Linked DNA regions of Homo sapiens. The protein of the gene in region 2 interacts with the protein of the main gene of each other region in a pairwise test. Each region holds a gene or a part of one and is shown on either strand. Other genes may lie near its edges.

Region 1 (7,029 bases), on a different chromosome or scaffold from region 2:
TGAGGTGATGAATATCCCAATTACCCTGATTTGATTGCTACACATTGTATGCACATATCAAAATATCACATGCACCCCATAAAAATGTACAACTATCATGTATCAATAAAATACCCATAGAATATACAAAAAAGAAACTAACAGAAAACAATTTAAAATATTTTAAATGACAAAACAATTAAATGACAATTAACAATAATGTTAGCCTATAAAGCTATTTTCTAAAACAATTTGGTAAGGAGAGTAGCATTGTTTTATAGTTCTACAAATCTCTTTAATGTTTAGCTTGATAGAAGGCAGCTGAATTACCATACCTGCTTCTGCATTCAACTTGCTGCAATACATGTTGTAAAACCTGGCTTCACACAGGTAGATATTTGGAAAAAGAGGGGTATTTAATAGCTTTTTCAGATGATAGTGTGCTTTTATATTATACCAAACATTGATGAAGTAGTTGAAGGATACTGGTTCTTAGTCAATTCTCATAAAAATTATCTCTTAAAACTATGACATTATTGGAGCACAATACCAAAAACTAATCAGGTCTCTGTACCATGGTTCTTACAAATTTAAGATGAGCCTTCTAGAGGCCGGAGTCATATTCCCTTACTTTCCTGCCCAAAGCATCCATTCCTGTTTCTTCCTCCAAGGCTTCAGGCTACAGGGCAGAAGACAGAAGATCTCCTGGCCTCCATGAAACTTTGCTTATTTAGAGATTCAGGGTTGGTAAAAGGTAGTTGGTTTTTCTTTTCACTCCTAGGCTAAACCCTGCATAGGTGTTTTAAAATAGGGTTCATAATTGAGTTCTCAGGTGAGACTGATTTTCTTCTCAATGAAAAGATTTTTTTTTTTCCTATTAGATTCATCTGTATATGGTTGTTTCTCAAAACTCAGAGGGTAATAAAGGAGGAGGCAAGATAGAGGGTTTTTATTGAAAGTAGGTTATGCAAACTTGGCTTGAAAGGTACTTATCATTTTAAAAATTATGCCTAATGATGCATCAAATACAAAAACATATAATACATCAATAGTCAACCCTTTCCCCATAAAGGCAAAGTTACTGAGAAATGTTTATTTTTCCTCTGGTAATGGCTAATCCAGGTAATAATATGAAAGCAAATGGAAAATTCACATTGCTTCTTTCATTGCTTCTGTCCCTTAAACCTGTTAATCTTTCAGAACCACATTACTGAGGTGCTGGCCTGTGCATGGAAACCCAATGATATCCAGGTCTTACAGGTCCAGGGCCCAGTGGACAGACAGGCCCTGGTCCTCCACGCTGGCCACCATGTCTTCGATGGCATTCCAGTCCAGCTTGCTGAGGATGCTGCCAGTGCTCTCAGACACGCTGTCCACACCGCCCACCCCAAAAGGATGCTCTGGCTCTTCCTCTTCAGTTGGAGACAAGTCCTATTAAATTGAAAAGACAATTGTGGTCCTAGCCCCTAAAAACAAACAAAAAAACAAAAACAAAAAAACCTGGAACGTGAACTAAGCTTTCCAAAAATTCTAGAGTTGCTCATCCATCAAAAGGCTGAAGGAAATGTGCCAGGAAATAGGGCTGTGATTGCCCAGCACATCCAGATGGACAAGAGCTGAACATCATCTCACACAACGAGATGCTGGCACCAGATGTGAAGACAGGGCAGAACGGATGTTGATACTTGTAGTACGATTTTATGTTCTTACATTTTGGTCATTTTTTAGTTAAAAAATACAGTCACAGAGAAGTCTGAAAGACAAATGCTGAAGTACTAAGCCAAAAGGGAAGATGCTTTGCATCACGATTTCAAACTGACCTAACAACTTTTCAGTATTTCCACATCCCACAAAAAACAAACTAAAAAACAAACAAACAAACAAACAAAAAACCTGAAGAACATAGAGCAATCACTAGACAAACAAAATCTAGAACAATGCTTACTTGTAGAAGGGAATTGTGACTCTCATGAAGAATCTTATGGATTTCTGAAGGTATCGTCCAGGGACTCACCACAGTCTCCTCTCTTTCATACTCTACACACACCTGCTTGGTTTGAGGTGCAAGCCCAGCACTTCCATGTTTTTTTGTATGCTGCAGACTATGACACGGAGCATTAGAGCCTTTTAAGGGATAAGAACAAAGCACACATTGGGATTGATTCATTCATTCATTCATTCATTTGTTAATTGTGACTTTTATCATCAAAGCCAAGGTAGTCACATTTTAAATAATATTTGAATCACAAGGTCTGGAAATGGTTCACTTTAGAGTTCGAACAATTCCTGTCCTGTCACTGTACGAGATGGAAACTGAATTCCAGCCTTTGGATTTGAAAACTATTAGTAATTAATCTTTAAGACAAGAAAATCTAGGGAGGAGAGGCCACAGATATAACAGAACGGTGGAGAGGTATTGACACCAAAGTTGGGTGAACTCTGAGACCTGGGCCTTCCCTGTCTTTTACAGAAAGTCTTGTGAAAACTTCTTAGAAGCAATGTTTTGGGCATCTTCACCCAGGCTTAATGCTTACAATCTGCCTTTAGGCAAAGGCATCACAGTGAGTGTGGTGACAATACATTATGACCCTCTTTCTTCTTACTGCATATATCAGTATTTGTTGAAAAGAAATTTTCATTCCAGCTAATGCCCAGAGGCAGCTTAGTAAACCCACAAACCAATAAGGTTTCTCTGCACAAAGCCCTAGAGGAGCCTACCTCACCTAACACAATGTTCCAAAGCCAATATCACAGCATGTTCTACCCTTCGAGGTGATTTCATGAAGAAACACCCAAGACATGGGACAAGATGGGAAGTAAATATAGATCCCAAACAAGCAGTCATGTGGCTCCCTGAAGAGGGGAGAAGAGGTATGACAATGCTGAAGTTTGGGCCCTCTTTGTCTTTTGTAACTCTACCAACCTTATGTACTTGAAGCTGAAGATATCTCCAAGAAATAAAGCCCCCAAAATAATCACAGCACACACTTTGGCATTTAGTATAGGCTAATAAGCACTTTTACATTCAGTCCCTTGAACTTACCAGACATTCATGCCTGGTCTTTAGATTTTCTAACACACCTCTGCTCTCCCTAGCTAACTTCATTTAGTTCCATGGCTTTAAATATCACCTACATGCTGACAGCTCTCTAAAACCTGTACCTCCAGTCTCATAAAGCTAATTGCCCCTTCTTAAAATCCTTGCTTGGATGTGCAATAAACATCTGAACTTTAACATGTCCAAAACCACACTGTTAATTTTTACCCCTAAACTGCCCTATCCCAGGAAATGCTCAGGTTAAAATCCAGTATATCTTTTTTGTTTTTTGAGACGGAATCTCACTCTGTCCCCAGGCTGGAATGCAGTGGTGCAATTTCGGTTCGCTGCAACCTCTGCCTCCCGGATTCAAGCGAGTCTCCTGCCTCAGCCTCCCAAGTAGCTGGGATTACAGGCATGCGCCACCATGCCCAGCTAATTTTGGTATTTTTAGTAGAGATGGGGTTTCACCATATTGGCCAGGCTGGTTTGGAACTCCTGGCCTCAAGCGATCGGCCTGCCTCAGCCTCACAAAGTGCTGGGATTACAGGAGTGAGCCACTGTGCCCAGCCTCATCCTTCTTTCTTATACATGCCACATCCAATCCATCAGCAAGTCCTAATTTTGTCTATCTTCAAAATACATCCCAAATCAAATAGTTTCCTCCCATCTCCATTGTTAAAACCCTAGCCCAAGCAATCTATCCTTGTATGCCGTCTTCTGTTCTTTCTTTCCACATGTTCTAAAACATAAATTATATTATCTCTCTGCTTAATTCCCTAAAATGGAGTCTCACTGGATCTCAAGTAAAATCCAAACTCCTTGCCTTAGCCTACAGTATCTAGCCCATCTCTCCCACCATATCTCTCGTCACCTTTCCACACTGATCTTTTCTGTCATACCAACTTTGTTTCTGTACCAGGACTCTGAACTTTCTGTTCTGCCTTATCTTTATACAACAATCTTACCAGAACTTTGAACTTCTGCCTGAAACTGTTTTGCCTTATCTTTACCTAACAATCTCCTTTTCATCATTCAAGATCTTCACTCCAACATCACCTTCTCTTTTTCTAAATTTTTATTCATTTAATTTTTAATTTGCTTCATACTAAGAGCTGGAGTAAGAGTTTCACCTTCTCAAAGAGACCTTTAACCACCCTTGCTAGAGTAGTTCCACCTAGCCAGCCTCATTCTCCCTTATTTATGTGCTGCTTTCTGTGTTGTTCATGAGTAACAGTGCCTGGTATGTAGTAGGAACTCAATGGGCAGTTGCTGAGTGAATACTCTTCCTGACAGTCCTATGGAGAAACCATTATTATCCCCATTTTGCAAATGAGGAAAGTGAGGCTTAGAGAGGTTATGTAATTGGCCCAAGATGATGGAGATGATCCACCCCAGAACCTGGGCTAATGTATTAACTTTTTTTTTTTTTTTTTTTTTTGAGATGGAGTCTCACTCTGTCGCCCAGGCTGGAGTGCAGTGGCACTATCTTGGCTCACTACAACCTCTGCCTCCCGGGTTCACGCCATTCTTCTGCCTCAGCCTCCCGAGTAGCTGGGACTACGGGCACCCGCCACCACACCCGGCTAATTTTTTGTATTTTTAGTAGAGATGGGGTTTCACCGTGTTAGCCAGGATGGTCTCAATCTCCTGACCTCGTGATCCGCCTGCCTCAGCCTCCCAAAGTGCTGGGATTACAGGCGTGAGCCACCACGCCCGGCCAATGTATTAACTTTCTATTCTTTTTTTGTTTTGAGACAGAGTCTCGCTCTGTCACTCAGGCTGGAGTGCAGTGGCATGATCTCGGCTCACTGCAAGCTCCACCTCCCGGGTTCACACCATTCTCCTGCCTCAGCCTCCCGAGTAGCTGGGACTACAGGCGCCCACCACCATGCCTAGCTAATTTTTTTTTTGTATTTTTAGTAGAGACGGGGTTTCACGGTGTTAGCCAGGATGGTCTTGATCTCCTGACCTCATGATCCGCCCGCCTCGGCCTCCCAAAGTGCTGGGATTGTACAGGCGTGAGCCACCGTGCCCGGCCTAACTTTCTATAGGGTGAAGGAAGAATAATACTTAGAGGGCCCTTTAAGATCATCTTCATATCTATAAGTAAAATATGAATAGATCTATTAATTTGGATCCCCAAAGTGGCAGCTTTCCAAAAGCTTCTTCCTGGATTAGTGCCAAAGGGAAGGGTGCAGTGGTACAGACAGCTTAGGGATTTTTCTTTTGACTAGCCCCAAGAGTCTGAAAAAGAAACAAAGCTAACATCATTTGGTAGCACCTGCCACTGTAATATCCAATGTGAGAGCTATGCTCTAGTTGAAAAGGTTTGACATTTTTTCTGCTACTTAAAGACATCACAGAGTATTTTGAAATGCCACTGAAAGTTCCATGTTAAAATAATTATTTCAGTAAATATTAATAAGGAACAAATTTTGAAAAACCATATAAAGGAAAAAATCTACGAGCAGATGACAGGAATGCATATGTGAACAAACACTGTGTTAAAAAAAAAACAGCCGTTAAAACAGAAAAAGTGAGACTGAAAGAGAAACCAATGAGTGGTTAAGCAACATAACCACAAGAGTAGGCTTCCACTTCAAAGTAGATGGGAACAAGTGGAGGTGGGGTGCTGAAGTTATTCCTTCAAGTATTCACGATATGACTAGAGATCAACAAAGGCTACAAACATCAACTAATCCCAAACTCATCTTGGCTACAATTAATTTGGCATCTAGACATCGACATTCTTGTTTTGTCCAAATGAACATAATTATTGTCATCTAGAAAGAATGACAAATCAAACCACCACCTACTCTGCTAAAATTACAGTTAAGAGTCTTGCATTTTAGGATAAATCTTCACCTATGGGGTATTACAAACCTTGAGAGGCTATCACTGGGTTTCTCTCACCTTACTTTACCTAGAGATGGCTTTGTAATTTCCTTCCTTTCAGATCATAATGCATTTTTCCAGGGTTTATCTGGGATATCCAATTTGAGATAAAAATATAATGAGAAAAGTTCTGTGAAACTGAGCATGCATAAGACTTTTCAAGGTAAAGTGTACCTGCCCCACTGGACAGTGAAAGCTTTCTGAAGTGAAAGGTAAGTTATAGATCAAGAAGACACCCCACAGCAGAAACCAGGCTGCCAAGTACACTGGCTTCCCTCAGAAAGGAAGTACTCTTTCTCTAGGACGGTGGGCACTGACACTCAGTTTCTTTATAACATAACACCAAACAGTGTCTACAGAGTCTAGCCTGAGAAATCTGAAACTGGATGATAAAACTAAACCTATTACCTCCATCATTCCCAAAGAAAATCCTGCTTCTTTTCCTGCTCTACTTGTGTCAATTTGTGAGTCACAGTCTAGCTAAGCACTTAAGCTAGAAACTTGGAGTCATACACATTTCTAACTTTCAGAGGCAGGGTTACCATTGAACAATGAAACAAATACCTACAGCTTTCTATGGGCAAGGCCTCATGTTAGATTATAATGACTTCAAGAACACAAAACCCTGGATCTCCGGGACTTTCAAAAACAAAACAATATAACGGTACATGTAATTTCAACTGTTTTTAGAGGTAACATTGTATTTGGGGAGCATTTTATCTGTTGAACTAGACATTGCTAGATATTTGCTTTGAAAAGAATAAAAAGCTATTGAGTACTCTAGACTAGAAAACAATTCATAATGGGTAAAAAGGAAAGTCTTTGAAAGAGAGAAAAGCTGGCATGGGATTTAGAAGCTGGTACGGTTTGGCTGTGTCCCCAACCAAATCTCATCTTGAATTGTAGCTCCCATAATTCCCACGTGCTGTGGGAGGGACCAGGTGGGAGGTAATTGAATCATGGGGGCAGTTACCTTCATGCTGCTGGTCTTGTGATAGTGAGTTCTCATGAGATCTGATAGTTTTATAAAGGGGAGTTCCCCTGAATACACTCTTTTGCCTGCCACCATGTAAGACTTGCCTTTGCTTCTCCTTTGCCTTTTACCATGATTGTGA
Region 2 (6,340 bases):
AGGCTGGTCTTGAACTCCTGACCTCAAGCATTCCTCCCACCTCAGCCTCCCAAAGTGGTGGGATTACAGATGTGAGCCACCGCACCCAACCAAGGGGCTGATTTTTACGTTGCTTTTTAAATCAAGGCCACTTTTTTTTTTTTTTTTTTTTTTTGAGATGGAGTCTCGCTCTGTCACCCAGGCTGAAGTGCAGTGGTGCAATCTCGGCTCACTGCAAGCTCTGCCTCCCGGGTTCATGCCATTCTCCTGCCTCAGCCTCCCAAGTAGCTGGAACTACAGGTGCCTGCCACCATGCCCAGCTAATTTTTTTTTTTGTATTTTTAGTGGGGACGGAGTTTCACCATGTTAGCCAGGATGGTCTCGATCTCCTGACCTCATGATCCGCCCGTCTCAGCCTCCCAAAGTGCTGGGATTACAGGCGCTGAGCCACTGTGCCCAGCCGACACTTTCTTAGATTATTAGAGACATGCTCCCAAGCAAATGTCAGTCAGAGACACACATTTCACACGGGGCAGAATAATTTCAAAGTTTGGCTATTTTAATTCAATTTCATTGTTCAAGGTAGTATGGGTATATTAAGTGGTTCATTTCCCTCCTGAAGAAAACAACTTCTGTCTGATGTGATTTTGTGAAATTCAAACATGACTCTTTGACTGTTTAAAAAAAAATTTTTTTTTCTTTACGTATCTTGGTAAGATTTTTTTTTTTTCTGGGACATATTTTTTGTAAACCTCCAAGTAGTTTGGAAACACTTGCCTATTTGCTCATTCCTCTGGGCACAGCCTTTCAGAGCATTTATCCCACCTGTACTGAAAAATCTGTTTTCCCAGGTGGTGGTGGGGCCACTGGATAGAAGGGATCACAGAGAAATGAGGAGTGAGCGAGCTTTGTAAACTACTTCTAATTCTCTTCATTAGTATGCTATGATCCACCCCAGCTTCTGCAAGGTCAGACATGCAAGACAAGTACTTGGCCAAAACAGCAGGATTCTAACTAGTGTAAAAATAGATTTTAAATAAAATAGAATCTCTATAGGAAAGAGAATTAGGTTATGCTTTACATTCCCACTCTTAAGATATCTGTATATATAAGTCCAAGAGAGACTCAAAGAGTTGGTCTGCCCTAAGTAAAAATTAAGAATGTCTGAGTACATTCATTTTGCAACATTACACGTAAAGTTTTTTGGGAAATGCTGCAGCACATCCCACAAAAACAGATGGTGATTAGTGATACAGTTGATGTGCTAACAAGTAACATGTAAGACATTTAGGTCAAAGGGGATGAGGCCTAATTACAGGCTAAAAACCTATTCTGAAATGTGATCATTTGAAAACCTGTGGCTAATTATAAAGCAAAAACTAAAACCTGTTGTTTAACAATACATCTTACTAACCTATCCCTCTACCTCTTCAAGAAACTAAATTCCAACACAGGTCTTATTTTAAGTTTGCTCAATTACTGCAGGTTATAAATTATTTGACATTTATGGTTCCAGAGAGAGTACACAGCCCCTCTGTTGGCCCACACAAGCGTTATATGACTGTTCTAAAGGGGGCTCTGTTGAAATTCTAATTTTAGGATTTAGAAACAGCTTTTGGTTATATCTTGAAAGCGTAATTGAAAATCTGCCCAAGCTCCCTCTAGCTGCAACCTGAACATGCAGCCCAATATTTTGTAAACATTTAGAAAATACTAAACCCAACAAAATACACAATTAGCTAGTCAGAGGCCTCACTCTACATTTTCACACGGATGAGAAATCTCCCCACTCAGTCTTGCTAGATGCTAGGATACCCACTCTGAGATTTGAGTTTGGGAACAGCCATTAAGCCTCCTCCTTAATTGCGGTTCATAATGATGTACGAAGTCACCAAAAATAAACAGTGGAGCTGCCACCATTTTTCCTACACTGAGTCTACCCAATGTGCCCCGGGTTGTTTGTTTTTCCTGGCTGGCCCCAGAGCAAGAAGAGATGACTGCTGGTAAAGAGCCAGGGCCTGGTTTACTACCAGGCCTCTTTTCAGATAACATTCAAGCAATTCTTCCACTCCCCAGAGGAAGGGGGAGATGATAATGATATGACACTATTGCTAGGGAGTTTTCATAACTCCTTAATAGCCAATGGAAACCTCTCTTTAAAGCAGCTGTTATGCCCTCAGAGAGGTTTGGTGCTTTAGTGCTAGATAACCTTACCTTTGAGGTTACAAGAAATAACTTAACATCTTAAACCTACCCCAGAACTGAATGTCAAATACGCCAACTCCATAAATACAATGGAAAAATGCACAGCAGAGTTGGGGCTTCTACCAAGCAGGAAGGCAAAATGGTCATTAGAATGTGAGGTTAGTGAACTCTTAAGACCTTTTCGAACGCAGCGCCTTTCTATCAGCTCTCCAGTCAGCACCCTTTACATTCACTACATCACACACTAGCAAATGAAAGAGCCAAACAACTGTGGCTTGATCCTCACTTGTACTTATTAGGGCCCACCCTCACATTTAGCTGAAGGTCCCAGCACACTCTCACAGTGTCAGGGAGAACAGTCTCAGGGATGTCTGTTGCTCTGAAGGTCACTTGCCCCTCTTGCTGCGGCCCTTCCTGGAGGGCAACTTCCCACTGCCCCCCGAAGAGGCAGGGCTCGAGGCCGAGGCCATGGCGATGTTGATCTGTCCCTCCTGGATTTCCTGCCGGGTCTCGGCAGGCAGATGGTTGATCTTCTGCTGTGTCTCCAGGTAGAACATGACGTCACGCAGCTGCTCCTGGATCTCGGTGATCTGCAGATCTTTTTGGTCACAGGTCTCCTTCAGCACCCTCTCCTCCTCTTTTAGCTTGTTCTGCAGGAGGACTTGGTTGGCTCGCAAACACTTGTTCATTTCCTGCTCCTCTTTGAGCTCGTTGGTGAGTTTGGCCACTTTTGTGTTTAGCTGAGTGCACCTTTTGAAAAACAAAGGAAGACAAAAGCACATTTTTCATTTGCTGACACAGTCCCCTTTCTGCTCTGGGATTGAACAGAGAAACCATGACCTCAGAATCCCTTTAGGACAGACCCCTTTCTCCCATCGTGAGGGAGAATGGTTTTCTGCCATCGCAATCAGCTATGCAAAGCAAGAATTTTGCTCTACTTAACACAAGTGTATTTTTTTTTGAGACGGAGTTTCGCTCTTGTTGCCCAGGCTGGAATGCAATGGCACGATCTCAGCTCACTGCAACCTCCACCTCCTGGGTTCAAGCGATTCTCCTGCCTCAGCCTCCCAAGTAGCTGGGATTACAGGCACCTGCCACTATGCCTGGCTAATTTTTGTATTTTGAGTAGATATTGGGGTTCGGCATGTTGGCCAGGCTGGTCTTGAACTCCCAACCTCAGGTGATCCACCTGTCTCGGCCTTCCAAAGTACTGGGATTACAGGCATGAGGCACTGCGCCAGTCCACAAGTGTATTATTTATTTATTTATTTTTTGAGATGGAGTCTCACTCTGTTGCCCAGGCTGGAATGCAGTGGCGTGATCTTGGCTCACTGCAACCTCTGCCGCTTGGGTTCAAGCGATTCTCCTGCCTCAGCCTCCTAAGTAGCTGGGATTACAGGTGCCTGCCACTGTGCCCAGCTAATTTTTGCATTTTTAGTAGCGACGGGGTTTCACCATCTTGGCCAGGCTGGTCTGGAACTCCTGACCTTGTGATCCACCCACCTTGGCCTCCCAAAGTGCTGGGATTACAGGTGTGAGCCACCGCGTCCAGCCCACAAATGTACTTTTAAGACACTTTTTTTTAAGCATCAGAAAGTTTTCAGTAGCAGAAACTATTCTGTGACTGACGGTAAAAATTCTACTGCTTCTTTGTTTTGCAGTCAGTGGTTAAATAGGTGCCTTCGAGATGATAGCTGTGATAAGGAAGTTATGAGGAAAAGTGGCATTCTTGGAGAGTCAAGTACTCTGACTTCATTGCATTTGCTGAAGGGGAAAAAAAGGGCACTTATTCTAACCAAAGGGCTTTAGACTTGGGAGTGCCCTATTCTTGATGTCCAGTCTTACTCATAAGTAAAGAATTGCAAATGAAACCACCATTTGAGGCCAGGTGCATTGGCTCATGCTTGGAATCCCAGCACTCTGGGAGGCTGAGGCGAGAGGATCGCTTCAGTAAATGAAACAGGAAATGAGTTCGAGACCAGCCTGGGCAACAAAGTAAGACCCTGTCTCTACACAAAATCAAAAAACTTAGCCAGGTGCAGTGGCGTGCACCTGTGGTCCCAGATTTACAGGAGGCTGAAGCTGGAGGATTGCTTGATCCCAGCAGGTCAAGGCTGCAGTGAGCTGTGTTCATGCTACTGCACTCCAGCCTGAGTGACAGAACGAGATCTTGTCTCAAACAAACAACCCATACCATCTGAGACCCAGCAGAGTGGCTCATGTCTGTAATCCCAGCACTATGGGAGGCAAAAGTGAGAGGGTCACTTTGAAATCAGCCCGGTCAACATAGCGAGACACCGTCTATACAAAAGAAAAATTAAAAAACTAGCTGGGTGTGGTGATGTGCACTTGTAGACCCAGCTACTTGGGAGGCTGAGGCAGAGGACTGCTTGAGCCCAGGAATTTGAGCCTGCAGTGGGCTGTGATTGCATCACTGCACTCCAGCCTGTCTGACAGAGTAAGACCCTGTCTCAAAAAAACAACAACAAAAACCAAAAACACTCACACACAAAAACCACGAACAAAAAAACCCCACTATTTGAGATACTATTTTTATGCATCAGAACACCCAAGAGCTGAGACATGAGAAAAGAGGCACTTACACACTAGCACTGGAGCATGAACTGGTATAAACTCTTTCGAAGACAACTTGGCAATATCTATAAAAACAAAAAATTTGGGCCAGGCACGGTGGCTCACGCCTGTTATCCCAGCACTTTGGGAGGCCGAGGAGGGTGGATCACGAGATCAGGAGTTCAACATCAGCCTGGCCAACATGGTGAAGCTCCGTTTCTACTAAAAATACAAAAATTAGCCGGGTGTGGTAGCGTGTGCCTGTAATCCCAGCTACTCGGGAGGGTGAGGCAGGAGAACTGCTTGAACCCTAGAGGCGGAGGCTGCAGTGAGTCGAGATCGTGCCACTGCACTCCAGCCTGTGTGACAGAGCAAGATTCCGTCTCAAAAATAAATAAATAAAAACAAAAAATTTGCATGCCCTTTGACACAGCTATTTTACTTCTAGGAATTTATACCATAGAATAGATATACTCAGGATTAGGTAAAAAGAGACATGGAGGAAGATGCTCATTACAGTATTGCTTATAGTAGTGTGAGATTTGACACAACTTGACACAATCAATAGGAACCTGGTCAAAATCATTATGCAGGCCAGGTGCAGGGCTCATGCCTATAATCCTAGCATTTTTGGAGGCCAAGACAGGATCAAGGAGGAGGATCACTTGAGGCTAAGAGTTCAAAACCAGCCTGGGCAATATGGCAAGACCCCGTCTCTACAAAAAAATTTTCAATTGGGCAGACATGGTAGCACACACCTGTAGTCCTAGCTACTCAGGAAGCTCAGACTAGGAGGACCACTTGAGCCCAGTAGCTGGAGGTTGCAGTGAACTATGATTACGCCACTGTACTCTGGCCTAGGCAACACAGCAAGACCTTATTTCAACAACAACCACCACAACAGAAATCATTATAGTACATCCATACAATTAAACAGCATGCAGATGTTACAAAGATCAGGATAGATTTAGATGTGCTAGTATGAAAAAAAATCCAAAAACATATTTTATCAAAAAGAATACCTAGATTCTATTTTTGCAGAGAAAAGATTATGCATGTGAGATATTTATGTGGGCAGAGCTAAACATCTAGAAGAAGAAATATTCACTGGTACTGGTTAATAATGGTTAACACTAGATAGCAGGATCTAGAGGGTGAAAAAGAACTTCCAGTTTTTGCAGGGTGTGGTGGCCCATGCCTGTAATGGTAAAACAGTCTCTGCAAAAAATTAGCCAGAGGCCAAGCACGGTGGCTCACGCCTGTAAAACCAGCACTTTAGCAGGCGGATCACCTGAGGTCGGGAGTTTGAGACCAGACTGACCAACATGGAGAAACCCTGTTTCTACTAAAAATACAAAATTAGCCACGCATGGTGGTGCATGCCTGTAATTCCAGCTACTTGGGAGGCTGAGGCAGGAGAATTGCTTGAACCCCGGAGGCAGATGTTGCAGTGAGCCGAGATCACACCATTGCAGCCTGGGCAACAAGAGCGAAACTCCGTCTCAAAAAAAAAAAGAAAAAAAGAAAAAAAAATTAGCCAGGGGTGGTGGTGCACAGCTGTAGTCCAGTTACTTGGGAGGCT

Evidence for each region. The genes of interacting proteins can lie anywhere in the genome.
Region 1: the proteins of BRAP (region 2) and CPLANE1 interact in a two-hybrid assay, tested with the Homo sapiens proteins (one study listed by IntAct).

The regions. Positions count from the first base shown.
Region 1 is NC_000005.10:37,106,369-37,113,397, forward strand, and holds part of CPLANE1 (ciliogenesis and planar polarity effector 1), read right to left. Parts: intron 2,104-7,029; coding exon 1,925-2,103; intron 1,411-1,924; coding exon 1,234-1,410; 3' UTR 1-1,233. UniProt on the Homo sapiens protein: Involved in ciliogenesis. Involved in the establishment of cell polarity required for directional cell migration. Proposed to act in association with the CPLANE (ciliogenesis and planar polarity effectors) complex.
Region 2 is NC_000012.12:111,641,629-111,647,968, forward strand, and holds the end of BRAP (BRCA1-associated protein), read right to left. Parts: intron 2,935-6,340; coding exon 2,571-2,934; 3' UTR 518-2,570; downstream 1-517. UniProt on the Homo sapiens protein: Negatively regulates MAP kinase activation by limiting the formation of Raf/MEK complexes probably by inactivation of the KSR1 scaffold protein.